3 separate regions of the Homo sapiens genome follow, and regions 2 and 3 are each reported to be linked to region 1. Evidence: microRNA targets listed by miRTarBase, many of them from high-throughput screens and not tested one by one. Region 1 holds a microRNA gene; each other region holds the end of a gene's coding sequence.
What was found. Region 1 holds the annotated microRNA hsa-miR-7106-5p (UGGGAGGAGGGGAUCUUGGG, at 1,975-1,994, shown strand). A microRNA usually pairs through its seed, bases 2 to 8, with sites in the 3' UTR of a target mRNA and lowers its output. Matches are read on the target gene's strand: a 7mer-m8 pairs with bases 2 to 8, a 7mer-A1 pairs with bases 2 to 7 and ends in A, and an 8mer does both.

Region 1 (3,351 bases):
ATGCTGCCAAAACCCTGGGTCCCTCCATGATCCCCCCCACCCAACCCCCACACCCACAGTTTCCCCCTTCCTACTGTCCCGGCCTCTGATGGTCACGAGCACCGCCTGACAGGCGCTGGGAAGTGCCATGCCCCTCAGGTGCCTTGTCCCCGACCCCCTTCCACTTCACAGATGAAGCTACAGGGATAACTTCTGGTAGATGCCCTGTTCACCTAATTAAGCCGATTGTGTAAAATCCTAGAGAACCCGGGAGGTGGAACCTTGTGCAAATGCAGGCCATTTTCACCTGCAAAAATGGCATTTGCATGTGGTTCGACCTGACAGTGAGCATGAATTGATTCCCTGTGGCATCCTTAGGAGTGACGTTCTTTTTAGCAATGCTGTGGGGAAGTTCATGTCACCAAAGACGCAGTCAGAAGCAGCTTTGGTTCTGGGAGGAGGCGATCACAGGGGATGTTGAGGAAGATACTTCCTTGAAATGTGGGTTGGCAAGTGGTACATTTGGTCATCTGAGGACTTGGACCTCTTTGATCTGGCCTGGGTCCCTCAGCCAGTAACAAGCTAAGGTGGATTTGAAGCCGGCTCTGTCTGCCAGAGCCTGTGCTTAAGGGCTGTTATCAGGGAGGGGCTCCCGCTTGCTGGGTGCAGGCAGGCTCTGTCCTGGAAGGCCACACATGACCTGGGAGGCAAGGTGACTGCGAATACCCATTTTACAGGCCAGGAAACAGGTGCCTTATGAGGGCTATGACTGAACCTGGGTCACCCAGCTGCCCAAGGCTCCCACCTGGAGTCTTCCCTGGGGAGAGGGGAGTTTGGGACCATGTCTTGGGTCTCTCTCAGATGGCCTTAGCCCCTGCTTGTGTCCCTCCACCTCCTGGGGCTGGTCACTGCCTCCCCTGGGTGTCTCTGTGAGCCTGCGTGCATTTGCCTGGGCCTGTTCTCTGTGGCTCCTCCCTCTCCAGCTCTCCCATCTGTGGGAGTGTCTCCTTGTCAGCATGGCTGGGTGGGGACCACCCACACCTCACTTCTCAGCCTGTTTTTACCTAGGTGAAACAGCAGCTTCTGCTGCGAGCATTGCCGTGCAGTGGGCGTGCAGGGGCTGGGGAGACGGGGGCGACCTGTGGGCTTTGGGAAAAAGCAGCTGTTCTTCCTTTGCTGTCCTCATTGGAGGTGATAGGTCCTGCGAGGCACCCTGGCTCCATTGGAGACAGCTGGGACCACCTTAATGGTCATCCCTCTAGGAGCCCTGGGGAGGCTGCTGTTATGAATGGGGAAGAGGAGGAGGAGGACACAGGGCTTAGTGGGAGCCAGGGAGGGTGGTGCTTGCCTCCCGGAGAACTAGAAGAATGGACTACCTGATGCCCACCTGTGGGGCTGGGGCAGGGTCGCTGACCTCTGCTGCTGCTGCTGCTTTGCTGTGTGATCTCAGATAAGTCCCTCTCCCTCTCTGGCCTTCTTTGATTCCTCTCCCACCTAAAGGAAGGTTCATCTACACTCTTTTTTCATCTAACAAGCCTAGAGCATGGTGTCCATGGAGACAGAGGCTGAGGTCTGTATCGGTTACTATGGGGGGCCTCAGAGCCTGGCGTGCCGTAGGTGTGCTGTGGAGACATACACTCCTTGGTTGGAGAATTTTTAATAGTAACAGTCATGCCCAAAAGGCTCCCACTATGGGACAGGCCTTGAAATTCTGACCACTTTACACCATGGAAATGCATTTACTCTTCACCCATGAGGGAGGTGCTGTGATTTATAATTCATAGATGGGGAAACTGAGGCACAGAGCCGTTAACTTCTTGCCCACGGTCCAAGAGGTCACAGCTGGGATTTGAACCCCAGCGGTTCTGGCCCCGTGTTATTGACCACTCCATGAGGCTGCCTAAAACTTTATTAGCCACCTACTGTGTACAGACACTGGGCCACAGCAATAAGCACAGAACAGGAGTAGGGGCAGGGGAGGAGTCTGCAAGCTTCTGGGAGGAGGGGATCTTGGGAGTGATCCCAACAGCTGAGCTCCCTGAATCCCTGTCCCAGCAGGTGCATCCCGGCCCCACGCCCCAGGCACCCCTGCAGGCCGAGTCCGCCCGGAACTCAAGACCAAGCAGCAGATCCTGAAGCAGCGGCGCCGGGCCCAGAAGCTGCACTTCCTGCAGCGTGGTGGCCTCAAGCAGCTCTCTGCCCGCAACCGCCGCCGCGTCCAGGAGCTGCAGCAGGGCGCCTTCGGCCGGGGTGCCCGCTCCAAGAAGGGCAAGATGCGGAAGAGGATGTGAGGACCAGGACCCAGCCCCGTGGCTCCTTGATTGGCCTTAGGGTGGGCATCAGCAGACGTTCCCGTGCACCACTGTGTGCCTGGCCCTGTGCTGGGCACTGGGGGCACTCCCTGCAGGAGCCATCATCTGTGAAAAGGAGCACTGTATGGCCACAGAAGGGCAGCAGCTGCGTCAGCCTAAGACAGAGACATTTGAACAGGGCCTTGAAGGGTGTGCAGGAGTTCGCCAGCAAAGCCAGGCAGGCCAAGACTTGAGTTGGCAACTCAGCTGCTGCTGCTTCCATGTGTTCTGGGTTCAGAGGTCATGGCTGCACCGGTCAGAGCCCTGAGTGCCTCAGGGTTTGGCAATGGAATTTTTAATGTAATAAATCTTTATTGAGCACTGCTGGTGGCCAGGAGTGCGGTCTACTTGGGGAACTGGAATGGAGAGACCCAGGTACTAAAATCCCAGCTAACGTGGCAGAGGAGTTGCGGGTCTCCTGAGGGTGAGTTCTGCTGCCTTGTCCATTTAGCGATGAGGAAAGTGAAGCTCAGAGCACAAACCAGGTGCCAGAGGCGGGAGTTGGTCCCCCTTCCTCCCACTGGACATGGTTGCAGCTGGGAGTGGGCTGGGGGAGGGGAACAGGATGCCCAGCCCAGGGGGCAAGGACACAGCTGCTCCCCTCTGGCTATGAAGAGGTTAACGCGGCCCCTCCACACCTGGAGGTCAGAACCTGGCCTGTCCTCTGTCTTCTTGCCACCCACCCCCTGTTTGAGGTTCTGAGAAGGTCAAGGGCAGCCCCAGCAGCTGGATTCTCAGGCTGGGCCCCTCACCTGGCAGAGTCCATAGTGGAGGGGGCCTTGGTGATCTCTCATCTAGCATGGACCCTGTTCTGAGACCTGACAAAGAGTTTTTTTTCATGCCCCAACCACCCTGGCAGGGAGGGCCTGGTCTGATCTCATTTTAGAGGCAGTTGCCCCACACATAGCCCCTTGACCTTCCCATCACCTCCTCATCAGGGCCTGCATTTATGGAGTGCTTGCTATGTGCCCCTCATGGCAGGCCCACAGCACTCTGAACAGGCACAGCCCTCCCATCTTCC
Region 2 (3,351 bases), not on the chromosome of region 1:
ATCACCTTAATTTGTTCCTTCTAAAACCAATCAGACCCTGAAAAGCATTATATCATATACTCCAAGAGAGTGAGATGAATATTTGAAACCAGAGATAAACTTAATGCCACACATTAAAATAGCACTTTTCAAAAACAGTGAGATTATCTCCTTTGCTCCTCATCCTCACCCAGTGGGGTAGATGGGACACCAAAAGGAGGAAACTAAGTAATAATCAACTTGCCCAGGTGGCTACAGAGATAGTTTTTGGAAAAGCTACAATACAACCTAGAATTCCTGATTTTCAATTCTGATAAGTCATTTGACAGTAGCCAAAAGTTAATAAGAAAATAGTTTTTAACATGACTTACATGGGCCTTTCATTTCATGGGAAATTAAAACCATGGTGAATCTAAAGATTTTGTCCCCAAGCCATGCTGAGACTTACGGGTTATCATACTATTGGTTGATAGGTCTGCTTTTCCTTCTATGGCTAAGACAACTAGCACTCACCAGATTATTTTAGTAACTGGAAGAGGAAGAGGGGAACACAAGTGCCATACATGACCTCGTGCGACTCCACAAACTCTTTTTAAGCTTCTTGGAGAAATAAACAAGGTTTGTTAGTTGCAGAGGTAAAATGTGTCATAATCACCAAATTGATTCCTGTAGACATCTTCCGCTTGAGATGTATGCAAAGAATTTTTGTGAGGTACAAATTAGGTCAAATGTGTCCCGTGTTTTTTGTTTTGTTTTGTTTTTTTAAAAAGCAAAATTTTAAGGACTGACACAAGGGACATACAAAGGTTTGAACATCAAATTTTAATCTTGAAACCTTTTATCCAGTCCTCAAATTATTAACATGAAAAGGAGTGATAAATCGCAATTTTATCATTACCATATCACTGTGTAACAAGCCCTTGTTACAAAATCTCCCTCTACTGTCTGCAAAAAACCAATAGAAAACCCATACATTATATTACCTAATGATCTATTAACAGATGAAATTTTAACCAACTTTATACCAGGAAACTATGAACAGAGGTACTTCAATCACATAGCTTAAAATATGGAGAAAAGACAGGTAAAAAAATTATCTTAACCTGTAGTAGTCTTTTTTCTTTTTAAAATTTTTATAAAATACACTAATTTCCCAAAATAAAGAATATTATGACACATTGGTGTCAACTTACACAGATGAAAGCTGATGCCAGCTTTTTCCTAACTAAAGTTCATTTCACCAAACCTTTATATATTACATGAATATCCAAGTAAAGTATTTTTTTTTTAAATTCAACACACAGGAACATAATATACATTGTTTTTTTTTAAAAAAAAGGTTAATTTAGGAATGATTTCATCTTCAACCACATAAAGTATCTTTTTAAGACCATGAAACCTCTTGTCATTGCAAGACTTTTCAGTTCATGTTTCTATTTCCCAGTTTTAATTCTTAAAGGAAAAAAAAAAAGATGAAAGGGTTTATTATGTATTTCCCATGAGAAAACTGTGGTAAGGATCTTATTCATTACCAGGCTGTCTTCCCTCCTTTTGTTTTCCGGACTACCCAGATCCATGACTGCGTGGCACCGTAATGAAATCGGTGGGAGAGGCCAATGACATCAAGGAATGGATATAAAAAGACAGGCTCTTCTGGATCCTGCCACAATTGTAAGGTGTGGGCAAATTCACTCCCACCAAGCCTTCCAGAGCTCCACAGTCACAGGAGTAGTCTCCTGGTTAACTCATCCTTGATGTCTGTCTGCTGGGAGGACATAAAAGACCACTTTCACTAATGACTTGTGTAGTGGCTAATGCATGCCTTAGCCAGAGAGGGAGCGAGTGCACTGAAGAGACCTTGGTCAGTAGTGGCTTTGGGGTAGAGAAGAGAACACTGTTTATTTTTACACCTCCTGAATTGGTCAATTCTGAGTACAAACTCATCTTAACAGGAAATCGCAATGAAATATACACACCATGCACAGTCTATATTACTGTGGGAATCCAGTAATACATGCAAGACGTGGGGAAAGAATCACAATGGATGAATATGAACTTTTCACAGTGTTTCTTATAGCCTTTGACTTAACACGAGTGCATCACTTACCACCACTATCTCACAAATGTTTTACTTGTGTCCTGGGCATGCAGGTCAGTTGGGGTAAAATGTGAAATGACGCTTCATAGCCATTCTCAGACAGTGACTACAACTTCAATTTCCCCTACTTTCCAACCAAACAATTGAGCTGCTTCTGCTATAAAACTAAATATATTTCTAAATACATTTTGTTCAAGGGTTGTGCTGTATTCTTTCTCATTGTTTCAGTCACTTCATTCTAGGAAAATTAAAAACCCACACAATTAAATTGAGGACTAGGTCTTCAGGGTGATTCCTACCAAACTAGAAAGAGAGGGAATCACTAACTTCTCTTCTCTCAAGTTTCTGTCTCTCTACCCCAGGCCCTAATTGATACTGATTCATTTGTATGTTTGGTTTCCCAAAGAAGAAAACCAAATTAGAGAACTGGGATTTCTATCTTAAAGAAGCAAAACATAACCCCAAAATATAATGGTAGCAGGGAGGAGGAGAGGGGAAAATGCATTCACTCTATGTCAAAACGAATCTCTTGCTCTCAACAGGAGATAATCCAGCTTCTCCTTACCTATCATTTCATAAATTAATAATTTCTTAAAATCATAATCCAAAGAACGTATCTATTATACGAAAAGTTCAAGTTTAAAAAAGCAAATAAATTAGTTAAGCCTTGTAAACAATTGTCCATTTTAGTCATATATCTTAAAAAAAAAAAAAAGTTTCTCTGTGTAGTAAATCAGACAGTACAAGGCACACCTTATACATCCGAATCCAGACTAACAAAACCCACACAAACATCTTCTTCATTCTGCTCGCTGGGGTAACTGTGCTGGGGCATCAGAGTCACATACCAATCCTTTGCTCATCTCCTGACCATCTGGAAGTCCACAAATGTGCTCTTTCTGTTAAACTGCTTTGTGCTACTTTGTTGTGTGAAGTGATTTTAAGCTTCTTCAGTGTCAGTCTCCTCATATGTTTTCCACAAAGCTTCCTGGGAAAAGGCCAGTTTTCCCATTACGTTGTAATGTGCCTTTGAACCAGCCATCCTCTCGTTTTTTATGAACAAACACAATATCTCCTTCTTTAAGTTCAAGTTCTGCCTCACTCTGAGGAGGATAGGAAACCACCACCCTGTGCCTAGAAAAGAAAGAGATTTTGGTTAAGGCGATTCAAAGCAGTGATTTTAAAAAATGGTGTACTGTTAGTCTGCACGAACCTTCAACATAAATAGGAAATAACATTAATTCATTTATGATTGTAAAACAACTCAAAATACT
Region 3 (3,000 bases), not on the chromosome of region 1:
ATTGTGCAAAAGCATTTAAATCAAAATACCCTATTTGTTATTTTTTTAAAAAGTAAAGTGGGGATGACAAGTAAAGTGGAAATTTATCCCAGAAGAGTGGGGATTACTGTGACTATCTGAAGTTTTTATACTTGAATTTTTCTGCTCAGATTTTAAAAGGACTGGAGGAGCTTGAGTTTCCTCAGACTTCACAATACATGGACATATTTAATGATACCTCTGTCCACTGGTTCCCTGTGCAAAAGCTAGAACAGCTCTCCATAGATATTTGGGAGTTTCGGGAAGAACCAGATTATCAGGACTGTGAGGACCTTGAAATCATCAGGAACAAGAGAGAAGATCCTTCTGCTACTGACTGAACTCGTTGTGAGGTACTCAGTGTTGGCTGAGGTAGAAGCTGCCACCAGAGACTAAAGGGAAGGCTGCTATGGAGGAACTACAGAGAACTCCTTTGCCAGGAAAGAACATCAACTTGGCTGTCCTGTTTTGAGGACGATACCCCACATGAGGACTTGGTATAAAGATTCCTGCCCTACGTGGCATTGTCCCATTTTACATCCTTCCCTCATGACCTGGCCTGATGTGGAGTAGCTCCTGAGTAAAGAAGTTACCCTTTTGAAGGTGATCTAAAAATACTGTTTATTTACAGTACATCCCTCTTAGGGGCAAGTCTCTGACTGGTTCTGGACCTGCCACAGTTCACTTGGCCATGTCGATCAGGCTCTGCAGTGAGGTGGGCACCCACGTCTTCTCGCCCTGGACAAAGACCACTCCCCGGTCGATGTAGATCACAATGCGGCCAAAGGTGTAGAGCTGCTTCCCTTCGTGTCGCTTCCCAATGACGGGCATGAAGACAATGTTGTGCTCCTCAGCCTTGGTCTCAATGAGGTCCTTAAAGTTCATGGGCACAGAGCTAGCGGCCACGCCAATGCCCCTCTGAGCCATGTTCTCAGCCTCCCGCCTCTCCTGCATGGCCTCGTACTGGAAGTCCTTCCTCCGCTCCGTGTGGGTGAGATAGGCAATGTTCTCCCGTGCTCCTGGCTGCATGTAGGCACCTAAGATACAGGAGGACAGGGCGGTGAGGAGAGGTGTTTCCAGGTGTATGGAAGTTGACACTGTGGCTTGGCCCAGGTCTTGGGTGTGCCAGAGTGCTTGTGACTCACTGAAGGGCAGCTCTGCCTCAAAGATACAACTTTGGAGGAAGTTTAGACGACTGGCCAGTATCACATAAAAACTGTTCAGAAGGTTCCTGGCTAGTATCTAGTAACCAGATTATTAATATTCAACATTTTAAAATGAAGTATCTGCAAGGGATTTCTTCCTTCAGAGCTGGAAACATTAACAGAGAGTCCTCAGCCACTCTTCTGTTCCCACCTTGCTCTGTAGAGTTTCCATTTCCCACCACCAAAGAGGCAGCTTTTAGTACCTTGAAAACATAGGGCCCATACTGGCTTTATTTTTAACCTACCCACACAGGGCCCCCATCCTGAAAGAAGTTCACATATATTTAGGGAGCTGAAATGAGTGTTTAAAGGATAATACCAAGACCATAAATGCTAAGTGCTAATTGAGGGGTATATTCAGGGAACAGTTTTGGAAACATGAGGCCAAGGGTAGCTAAGGAAGAGTTTTTAGAAAAAACTTGATAATTACAGAAGCAGAGAAGTATATTTGCCTTATTACTTAATCTCTGTTTTCACAGAATAGGCTATTTTTCTTTTTTTTTTTTTGAGACCGAGTCTCGCTCTTGTCACCTAGGCTGGAGTGCAGTGCTTGCAATCTCGGCTCACTACAACCTCTGCCTCCCAGGTTTAAGCGATTCTTCTGCCTCAGCCTCCTAAGTAGCTGGCATTACAGGCATGTGCCACCGCGCCCGGCTAATTTTTGCATTTTTAGTAGAGACGGGGTTTCACCATGTTGGTCAGGCTGGTCTCGAACTCCTGACCTCGTGATCTACCCGCCTCGGCCTCCCAAAGTGCTAGGATTACAGGCGTGAGCCACCGTGCCTGGCCTAGGCTATTAAATAACAAGAATTAAAGACTCAGGAAATAGAAATTCCAGTTCTAACTGCCACCCTTTAACTATGTGACCTTGAACAGGCTCTCAGCCTCGCTGGGCTTATCTGTAAAACACAGACTAGACGATCCCATTTCAATGCTGCGAATCGGCTAATGAGCAACACTGGAGCACAGGACTGGTTGAAATAGGCTCCCAAATGTAGAAACATAAATATACTCTCACTTACTTATGATCTAGGCAGAATGACTTACCTAGAACTTGGGAACAGATATAGTACACGAACAGTGAACTGCCTGTTTTTGACAACACAGACACCACCTATTGAAGGCTATACACAAGCATGAACTCACTCTCCCTTTTAGCCTATAAAGTAGATCTTACTGTTTAACAGGTAAAATGGGGCTGATTAAGGCTGAGCAATCACCAAGTGTCAGACCGCGTGCCAAACTCCACACTGTAAGATGCGTCACCTAAGCAGCATGCTCAGGCATGAATGAGCCTTAAAAGGCCACACAGCACAGTGGTTAAGAGGGCGGGGCCTGGGGTTAGACTGACATCATCTGAATCCAGCTTAAGTCAGTCTCCACTCAGGGAAGATGCCCCTCTCAGTCATGGTAGACCTGGGCAGTGGGTGCCAGCTGACCATGTACCCCAGTCAGCAGGGTGAGAGTCTGTTGCTATGTGCAAAAGTGTGACCTAAGGTTTAGGCTGCCTACAGGAACCAGAAAACTCTGATTCTGTGTCATTTACATGTGTAAAATCTGAAACTTGGGGCCAGGACATCCAAAATGGGAATCCTCACTTACCAACGTTGGAGGACACCGCCCGGTTCATGATATCAAGTGCCTCATTAAATTTGTCCTTGACAGATGGATGTGCCAGCACTTGGTCTGAGAACATCGACTTCCAACCCAGGTACCACTTGGTGATCTCCTCATAATTTGGGCTGTTACTGAGCCAAGAGCACAGCACCTGCCAAAA

Region 2: miRTarBase lists SH3RF1 as a target of hsa-miR-7106-5p. Seed matches in the 3' UTR shown: 7mer-m8 at 2,558-2,564 and 8mer at 1,746-1,753.
Region 3: the mRNA of SRRD is a reported target of hsa-miR-7106-5p. Seed matches in the 3' UTR shown: 7mer-A1 at 1,802-1,808 and 7mer-A1 at 1,967-1,973.

What each region holds. Positions count from the first base shown.
Region 1 is chr12:113,157,796-113,161,146 of GRCh38, reverse strand. MIR7106 (microRNA 7106) reads left to right here and starts at 1,970; the gene lies at 1,970-2,034. It overlaps CFAP73 (cilia and flagella associated protein 73), which reads right to left. Exons shown (of 8, transcript NM_001144872.3): 8 at 1,871-2,446. It overlaps DDX54 (DEAD-box helicase 54), which reads left to right. Exons shown (of 20, transcript NM_024072.4): 20 at 2,038-3,351. The coding sequence ends at 2,270.
Region 2 is chr4:169,093,477-169,096,827 of GRCh38, forward strand. SH3RF1 (SH3 domain containing ring finger 1) reads right to left here. Exons shown (of 12, transcript NM_020870.4): 12 at 783-3,211. The coding sequence ends at 3,043. Among named protein-coding and RNA genes, the nearest start is that of CBR4-DT, 85 kb to the left of the region's middle.
Region 3 is chr22:26,491,314-26,494,313 of GRCh38, forward strand. SRRD (SRR1 domain containing) reads left to right here. Exons shown (of 7, transcript NM_001013694.3): 7 at 150-3,000. The coding sequence ends at 359. It overlaps TFIP11 (tuftelin interacting protein 11), which reads right to left. Exons shown (of 15, transcript NM_012143.4): 14 at 2,826-2,991; 15 at 1-1,055. The coding sequence ends at 700. Among named protein-coding and RNA genes, the nearest start is that of SRRD, 8.9 kb to the left of the region's middle. RefSeq lists an enhancer at 1,975-3,000.